Linked DNA regions of Homo sapiens: region 2 is linked to region 1. The links come from fine-mapping of genetic effects on gene expression. Tissue or cell type: lymphoblastoid cells. Region 1 holds a variant in brackets; the other region holds the start of a gene. All regions are shown on one strand. Distances are from middle to middle.

Evidence for each region. PIP is the estimated chance that this variant, and not a neighbour inherited with it, causes the effect.
Region 2: FAM201A starts here. The variant in region 1 is fine-mapped to the expression of FAM201A in lymphoblastoid cells (TwinsUK, PIP 0.95).

Annotation. Positions count from the first base shown.
Region 1 is chr9:38,672,607-38,676,846 of GRCh38, forward strand. No RefSeq gene overlaps it. Among named protein-coding and RNA genes, the nearest start is that of FAM240B, 45 kb to the right of the region's middle. RefSeq lists an enhancer at 1-305. The variant C/CT (reference allele first, on the strand shown) is at 1,801.
Region 2 is chr9:38,619,068-38,623,307 of GRCh38, forward strand. It overlaps FAM201A (family with sequence similarity 201 member A), which reads left to right and starts at 2,021. Exons shown (of 2, transcript NR_027294.1): 1 at 2,021-2,298; 2 at 2,765-4,217. ANKRD18A (ankyrin repeat domain 18A) reads right to left here and starts at 1,529. Exons shown (of 16, transcript NM_147195.4): 1 at 1,013-1,529. The coding sequence starts at 1,218. RefSeq lists enhancers at 2,175-2,294, 2,947-3,156.

The DNA.
Region 1 (4,240 bases):
CAGCCGGATCTGTGGTCGCCTCTGAAACCGCAGGCTCCCTCTGTGATGGGCTCGCCAGGCCCTGCTGCTCCTCCGGCTCACGGAAGTGCCCTGTGGTGCACGGGGTTTTCACTCCAGAGAGAGCCGGGGAACCCCGCCCCCATCAAAGTTGAAGTGTCCTCTATCCAAAGGAGCTCCTCTGCCAGCTTTTTTTTTTTTTCTTTTTTTCTTTTTTTCTTTTTTTTGAGATGGAGCCTCGCTCTGTCGCCCAGGCTGGAGTGCAGTGGCGCAATCTTGGCTCACTGCAAGCTCCGCCTCCCGGGTTCACGCCGTTCTCCTGCTTCAGCCTCCCGAGTTGCTGGGACTACAGGCGTCTGCCACCACGCCCGGCTAATTTTTTGTATTTTTAATAGAGACCGGGTTTCACCGTGTTAGCCAGGATAGTCTCCATCTCCTGACCTCAAGTGATCCACCCACCACAGCCTCCCAAAGTGCTGGGATTGCAGGTGTGAGCCACCGCGCCGGGCCACTCCTCTGCCAGCTTTGCAGACCACTGCCTCCCTGAAAATCAATCTGACATCCAAAACGTGTATGCTCGACAGTGTTCTGGTGTGTGTTTTACCACTTTAAAAACAAGAGTGGTCCAAACATCTACATTAAGGACTAACTAGTAAATTGAGACTTGCTCTCTGAAACTCCACAGTTATGGCCCTAAAAGTTCCCAAGGCAGGGCCTTGCACTTGGCGATGGGAAATGTAAATGAAATGTGTACGCTCAGTGGTTTTCATTGACTATTAGGCTTATGGCAGATAGTCTCTGCCAAGTTATAGAATTAGTATTCCTTCTCCAGATTTCTCCCTCTCTTACACCTGGACAACTGGAGCAGAATTCATAAAATTCTGTGCTGAAAAGGTGAATGTGCTGAGAGAAGGAGGAGGAAGAAACAGTCCCTCTATTTGTTCAGCCAAATGGCTAAACGCACCGTGACGAAAAGCTGGGGACCGAAAATGAGCCGCTTCAGTTTACGTGAAGCAAACTAACATCTTAAGTTACATTCAGCACAGACATATCTGCTGCAGTAATTTTTAAAAACCGTACAAAAAGTTGTTAGGCAATCGTTGCGAACACAATACAATGAAAAGAGCGCATGCCCTAAGTCATGGCTCAGTCCTGGGCACCAAAGCCAAGCTGTGCCATCCCCGGCAAGACCTGGAAAGTCTCCCGGCCTCAGTGTCCTCCTCCGTGAGGCCTGGATGTGAACCTCACAGGGCTGCGCTGAAGAGTAAATGTGATAATGAATCTGAGGACACTTTGTCAGTGCCATTCAAAAGTTCTTGTTTTAAAATTTATTGCTTTTGAAGCCATGTGAATTGGCTGTTGAGATATTTAAAAATTCTCACCACATGTGGCAAGGTTTATAGAGCCCTGAGTTACAGAATGCCAATTCACAAATGTCAGCCACACCCGGCTTTGGGGTGGCTCCGTGCGTCTTTGGCTGTGAGAACTGTACTCTCTGTACGCTGCTGTATTTGGTGCTGCTGGTGCCTAGGCTTCCTCTCTCTTCTCCCTTCCATTTCTCTTCAAAACCCCTCTCCCACTCTCCGCCACCATAGCACAGAGCCATGCTTCGGGCATAAGGTAATTAAATAGACTTTTGGAATTGACCTAAATACTGAAGCAGCGAGCACAACTAAGGTTTCATGTGAAAAAGTCTCACAATTCCCAAGGAACTGACAAACATACACATTTGAAGATCAACATATTTGGAGATTGAAGACTGCCTGGACAATATTTTTCCATGTGTAGGCCTAGCACAATTTG[C/CT]TTTTTTTTGTAAATTAGATAAAGAACCTTCACAGCTAAAGACAGTACTCTAGCAAATGCTTAAAGCTATGACCAAGTAGCAAAATCATGAGTCGTGATTCTATTTACTTTTCTATATCCAAAGCTCAATCAAACTAGGAGCAGAAGAAAGCTTTCTCAATCCGATAAAAGTTATCTATTAAAAACTCTACAGATAAATACAATGAAATAGTGAACACATTTCCCCCTAAGTTGAGAACAAGACAGGGATACCCACTCATACCAGCTCTATTCAACCTTGATAGTACAGTAAGTCAAGAACAATAAATGAAAGTTACAAAGTCTAGAAAGGAAGAATTAAAGCTGTCTTTATTTGCAGGTGATAACGGTGTACACAAAACATTCAAATTCAGAGACTCGCATGGTGGAACTTTCTGAGGTGTTTCAAACATTCCATATATTGACCTAGGTGATGGTTACACAGGCATTTACTCATGTGAAAAGTCACTAAGCTTTACACTTAAGATTTGTGAATTTTACTTGGTATAAGTGTACTTCAAAATAAGTTATAATGGTTTAAAATCATTGGCCTGAAAATATAACCACTGATGGTTTCAAAACATGTTTGCAAATTATTTGATGCTCCTCCTTTCAAAACGTGGACTGTAACTCCCTCCCCTTGAATATGGGCTGAACTTAGCGACTCACAGCTAGTGAATAAAGGTGGTGGAAGTGAGGCCATGTGACTTCTGAGACTAGGCCATCAAAAGGATGCAGCTTCCACCTGGCTCTGTCTCTGCCAGGATGACACTCTGTGGGAAGGCAGCCACCATGTCATGAAGACTCTCAAGCAGCCTTGGGGAGATGCACGCTTGATGAGGAACTGAGGCCTCACACCAGCAACCAGCAGCATTGTGCCGGCTGTGTGAGCTCGCCAATGTGCAAGTGGATTCCCTAGCCATTCAAGTCATCAGGCCCCGGCAGTCCTGACTTTTTGACTGTAGCCTCATGAGAGAGCCTGAGCCAGAACCACCCAGGGAAGCTGCTCATAAATCCTTGCCCCACAGAAAACTTTGAGAGGTGATAAATGTTTATGGGTGTTTTAAGCCGGAGAGTTTTGGGGGTAATTTGTTACACAGCCATGGATAATCCTTGTCTTCAGAGTTAGTGATTATGTTTGAATCGGATGCTTCATGACTGGGAATGATTAAAATGTTAAAAGTTCTATATATCTTTTATTCTACTCTGCAAAACAAGCTTCAAGTGCTATGTATAAGGCATTATGTAAATTAAAACATACCAAGTCCTGAAAATGTAAAAAATGCAAGTAATGTTATGTTGTTCGTTTACTAGATGCCCCTTTTCACTTTTGGGCCCCAAAGCCTCTAAATCTGGAGAATGTGGGTGACTTTGGAATAAAATACTAAGAATGCAGCAGCCATAAGAAAGTGACATTCTAAGGAATTTTCCCAGGATAGCGAACCAAGCATGACAACTGAGGCCTCTTTTGCCAAAGTGACAGTGTGAGAAGGAAGAAGGAAAAGCCTCTGAATGGTTGTATTTTGGTCTCATTATACTACTTTGTTCTTCTAAGCTAGATGTCAAGTCCTTATAAATCCTCTTCTGATTTATGCTCTTGAAGCAGTAGGAAGTCAGGTTTGAACTCACCAAATGACAGAGGGTTTGATGAGCACAGCATCCCCATCATTCCAGCTGCCTCCCATGCTGGCCACCGGGCTGAGGGCACCTTCCACTTTAGGAACTGGTCAGAGCTTGTGTTGCTGTTGTTAGAAGACTCAGATCCTCCCCCACCACCAAACTCTCTACATGGAAGAGCACAGCAACCCTTCTCCTTACTTAACTCAGTACAGAAAGACAAGTTAATTCCCAACACAATGCCCAACTTTGTAGCTGGGCACTGCCCTTTCAGATTAGCTTAAAGAAAGTTGCATGGTTGCTTCCAGTTCCATGTGCTGTTCCTCCTCAGTGCTGCTTTCCCACCTTTCCACTTCTGCAATTTCAACAGTAAGTTTGTTAAGTGAGCCCTCTAAAATGCATGGTCATGAATAATTTTAATAGTAAAATGGGGCCGGGCGCAGTGGCTCACGCCTGTAATCCCAGCACTTTGGGAGGCCGAGGAGGGTGGATCACGAGGTCAGGAGATCAAGACCATCCTGGCTAACACGGTGAAACCCTGTCTCTACTAAAAATACAAAAGATTAGCCAGTCGTGGTGGCAGATGCCTGTAGTCCCAGCTACTCGGGACGCTGAGGCAGGAGAACGGCATGAACCCGGGAGCTTGCAGTGAGCCAAGATCGCTCCATTGCACTCCAGCCTGGGTGACAGAGCGAGACTCTCTCTCAAAAAAAAAAAAAAAAAAAAATTGTAAAATTGTTTAAACTATAGGTGCTAGAAATAAGTAAGCACTTGATAATGGATTCGTTGCACTTAAGAATTTCCC
Region 2 (4,240 bases), 54 kb before region 1:
CTGATACACAGGGGATTTTAATTTTTAGTTTGCTAAATCAACTTTCAGAATGCCTGCTTGCGAGGTCATTCTTACGAAGGCCTTTGTTAACATAAAATGTACCTGTATAAATAAGTCTTTGCGTTTTCTTCTGGTACTTTTTCTCATTTTGCATGTGTAAAAATTTCAGTCTGAATTCCATCAGGAACCCATTTTTGCGACATAAAGTTTCATTAGTTTTCTTCACACAGCAGGCATTTTATTAATAACTCATCTTTTCCTACTCATCTGAAACGTTACCATTATCCATCCCTATGTATATATCTTACATATATTTCAGTGTTTTTGGATTTCCTGTTCTGTTCCATTTATTTATCTGTGTTTTCAGCTGTTAGTAAATAATTAATTGTGGGAATTAATAGCACATTTTGATATCTAGAGGAGCAAGTCTTTTCACTCCATTATAAACATTTTTAAATGTCATCACAATGGTAAGATAGATAGCAAGTGTCATGCAAAAATGATAAAACCTTGATATCTTCATTCAGTTTATGTAAAACTGATAAACATGGAAACAGTTCATATTTTGAGAAAACTGAGTCTTCCCATTCAAGGAACCCACCTCGCGCTTCCCAGTGTCCCTCTAAGAAGCTCCAGTAAAGAACCTGTCTACCTAGGTGGATTCGGATGTAAAACCGACACAGGGTTTTATCTGAGAACTCTTCGCCTACTGAAAAAGGCTCATGGTATTTTTGACAGGGGAATGAGTTCTCATTAGGCACCTCCCTATCATGTATATGGCCCCATGTTTTAAACGTGGATATGCCTAACTTTGTGAGTTAAATCACTCAAATTTTCCACCAAGCGCGACGGACGGGGAATTGCCAGCGACGGAAAGCAGCTGAGGCTCCATTTGGCTCCGCTGCTCCGAGGGTGCCCGGCGCCCTCCAAGGTCCCCGCCCCAGGGGCTGCCGGGCTGCAGGGAAGCCGGGCCTGCGGCCCCCTCCCACCGCGGGCTGAGTCCCCGAGCTACCTGTCTTTTCTGTCGCGGGCGTCCAAGTCCCGGAACCTGCGCGTCAGGCAGCGCTCCACCTCCGCGGCGTCGCCCTTGATGGCAGCCCTGTGGATCTTCCGCAGTTCCCAGTCCCGAATGTCGTAACCCGGACCCGCATACTCTTGGTCCATGGAGCTCAGGAGCGCCTGGCCCAGGCGTCTCCCGAAGCTGAAGAGCTTCCTCATGGTGGCGACTTCTCAGACGCCCACCACCCGCTCCTGAGCCGCGGCGGCTCCTCGTGGCCTTTCCACCCCCACTCCGCCCCAAATCCGCGATCTCCCCCGCAACCCGCGATCCCCCCCGCAACCCGCGATCCACCCCCAAATCCAAGATCCACCCCCAAACCCGCAATGTAGCTCAGAATCCGCGATCCAGCCCGGTCCACCACAGCCTTCAGCAGCGACACTCGCAGACTCCGACCTCTCAGACCGAGTGAGCCCAGCTAAGCCGTTAGGCGCGCGCCTGAACCTCAGCGCTCCGAACTCTCAGACCGAGTGAGTCCCCGCGATGCCAGTTAGGCGCGCGCCTACAACTCAGCGCCAGCCGGGACTCCGGAAGCCGCTCCCAAGCCCTCGTGGCCGGCAGGGGGCACCTGCAGCACGGGCGCACGCGTCGCTGGCTTGCGGGTTCTCCTGGGCTCCCGCGGGACGTCCCGGAATCCCAGGAGTGCATCCCTTCCCGCCTGAGGGCCTGCCTGGCCCTGACTCCCGACCCGCTCCTCCTCCGAAGAGAGATCGGGGCCGCTGACAGGGGCCCTCCGCAGCCACCGGGGATGGGACTGGGGGGTCGGTTCCTGTCCCGGTGCAGCCGCCGCCGGGTAGACCGCCTGGCTTGGCCGCAGCCAGGGCGACATGTAGCCCCGGTTCTGCCAGGCTGGGAGCGCCAGCCATCTTGGGAGTTGCCAGGCAGCTGTCGCCAGCAGGTAGAGGGCGCCTGCAGCTTGGGCGCCCAGGTGGTGGAGCACGGCCTAGGCGGCCTCTGGATCGCGAGTGCACCTGGCCTGAGAGCCCGCCAGGCCCTGCCCCTGCTCGGCTCCTCGTCTGCTGAAGCTCGGGACCTCTAGCCAGTGGCCCTCTGCAGCCACGGGGAATGGGGCTGAGAGCCGGTTCCCGCTGCAGGGCAGACCACCTAGCTCAGCCGCAGCCACAGGGACATCTGGCCCCGGTTCTGAGATGTGGGGAGTGCTGGCGGGCTCGGGGGTTGCCTGGAGGCTGCTGCCTGCACACAGAAGGCGGATGCAGCTTGGGTGCCCAGGCGGGCTGGAGGTGCATGGCCTGGTCGGCCTCGGGATCGCCAGCGCGCCCAGCCTGAGGGCCCCCAGGCCGTGCCTCCCGCCCATTCCTCCACCGGAGGGGGATCGGGGTCGCTGGCATGGGCACTTGGCAGTCACTCCGGATGGGGTTGAGCAGGGGTTCTCAGTTTTCGCCCCTGTGCAGCCGCCGCCGGGCAGAATGCCTGGCTTGGCCGCAGCCACTGCTACACCTAGCGGGTCGGGCGGGCCGGGGGGTGAAAGCGCTGGGAGGCGGGTGCCTTCTCGCCCTGTGGCGCCTCTGGGCCCCACGGCTTGTCGGCCTCCGGCGCGCAGGGCTCCCCAGCATCCTGGGCGCCGGCCCGCTGCCTGCACAAAGTCAACTCAGACAGGATGAACTTCGGTTGCCTTGTCTGGCTGGGCTGCCAGGCGGGGCAGCTGACCTGCTGATGGGGTGACTTTCTTCATCTTCTTGCCCACAGGACAGCGGGCTGGGAAGCCAGGGGCCGCCGGGACCTGGGGCTGGAAACCACATCTGCCCACAGCCGCAGCCTCCTGCACCTGTCATCCTGGCGGCGCCCTGACGTCGGAGAAGCAGCAGGCGCGGAGCTCCTGCAGCGGGCACCGCTGCAGCAACCCGACCCGGCGCAGGCGGCAGTGGAAGGCGGCCTGCTAGCACGGCTCCCGCGGCCCCAGGACCAGGGGTGCGGCCAGCACCGCCCTCACTCCCCGCGTCTCGTGGATATTGCCCTCCCTGGAGGCGGCTGGACCTAAGCGAGGCTCGCAGCGATCGGCCCCGCGAAGACTCGCATGCAGGGCTCAGGATCCCGCATTCTGGCGCCGCGGCACCGCACCTTTCAGCAGCCCTGCTCCTCTTCTTGTTGGTAAACTTTTGTCACTCTGCCATGAAAAGCATCCAGGCGTCCTTGATTTCGACATTGCGTGCACGCTCAGCCGAGCTCATCAGACGGGCGGTTGTCCCCAGAGCCCGCGGGTAGCTTGTTCCCGGGCGGCGGCTCCTGCTGGATGCAGCTCCTTGTGGGCCTACCAGGCTTGGTGGAGCCACAGCAGACCTGTGGAGAGGAAGAGTAAGGCGGGCTCTGCAGGGCAGTGGGCCGGGACCATGAGAGAGGCGGGTCAGTCTGGGCTCCAAGCTCAGCCTCTCGGATTCCCCGGGACCCACGGCTTATAATGCGCTTAAATCCCACGCCTCGCCCGAGAGACAGCACGTCACCGTCACCGTCACCGCCTAGCGCCCCTGACCCGCTCCCACTCCGCTGCAGCGGAGGGTGTGTGAGGGAGAGGGACGCAGGGAGGGAAAAGCGTTGGGAGGGCAAACATCTTTTCATAAGCTTTTCCCCTTCTATATGCCATCTCTGATGGGAGCCTCTTTAGATCTTTCGTCCATTTACTAATTGGGTTGTTCGATTTCTTATTGTTGAGTTGTAAGTGGTTTTTAATGGTCTGGATGCCAGACAGGTGTTTTGCAAATATTTTCTCCGTCTGTGGCTTGTTTCTCCATTCTCTTATTTCCTTTCCCAGAGCAAAAGTTTTTAATTGTAACGACTTCATACCAATATCTTCTTTCATGGTAGAAATTTGTCTTTTATGTACTTTACTGTTGTATCTACAAAGTAATTGCCAAACCCAAAGTTACCTAAATATCCCTTTTGTTATTTTACAGAAGTTTTACAGCTTTTGGATTTAAATTTAGGTCTAAAAATTGAATTCATAAAAGTAGAGAGTATAATGATGCTTACCAGAGGCTGTGTTGCTGGGGAGAAAAATGGGAAGTTGTTCACAGATGCAAAGATTCAGTTAAACCGGAGAAATGCGTTTTGAAATCTATTGCACAGCAGGATGACTATAGTCAATAATAATGTACTGTATATTTAAATAACAAAAAGTAAATTTCAAATATCTAACCACAAAAAATAAAATTGAGGTGATGGGTATTT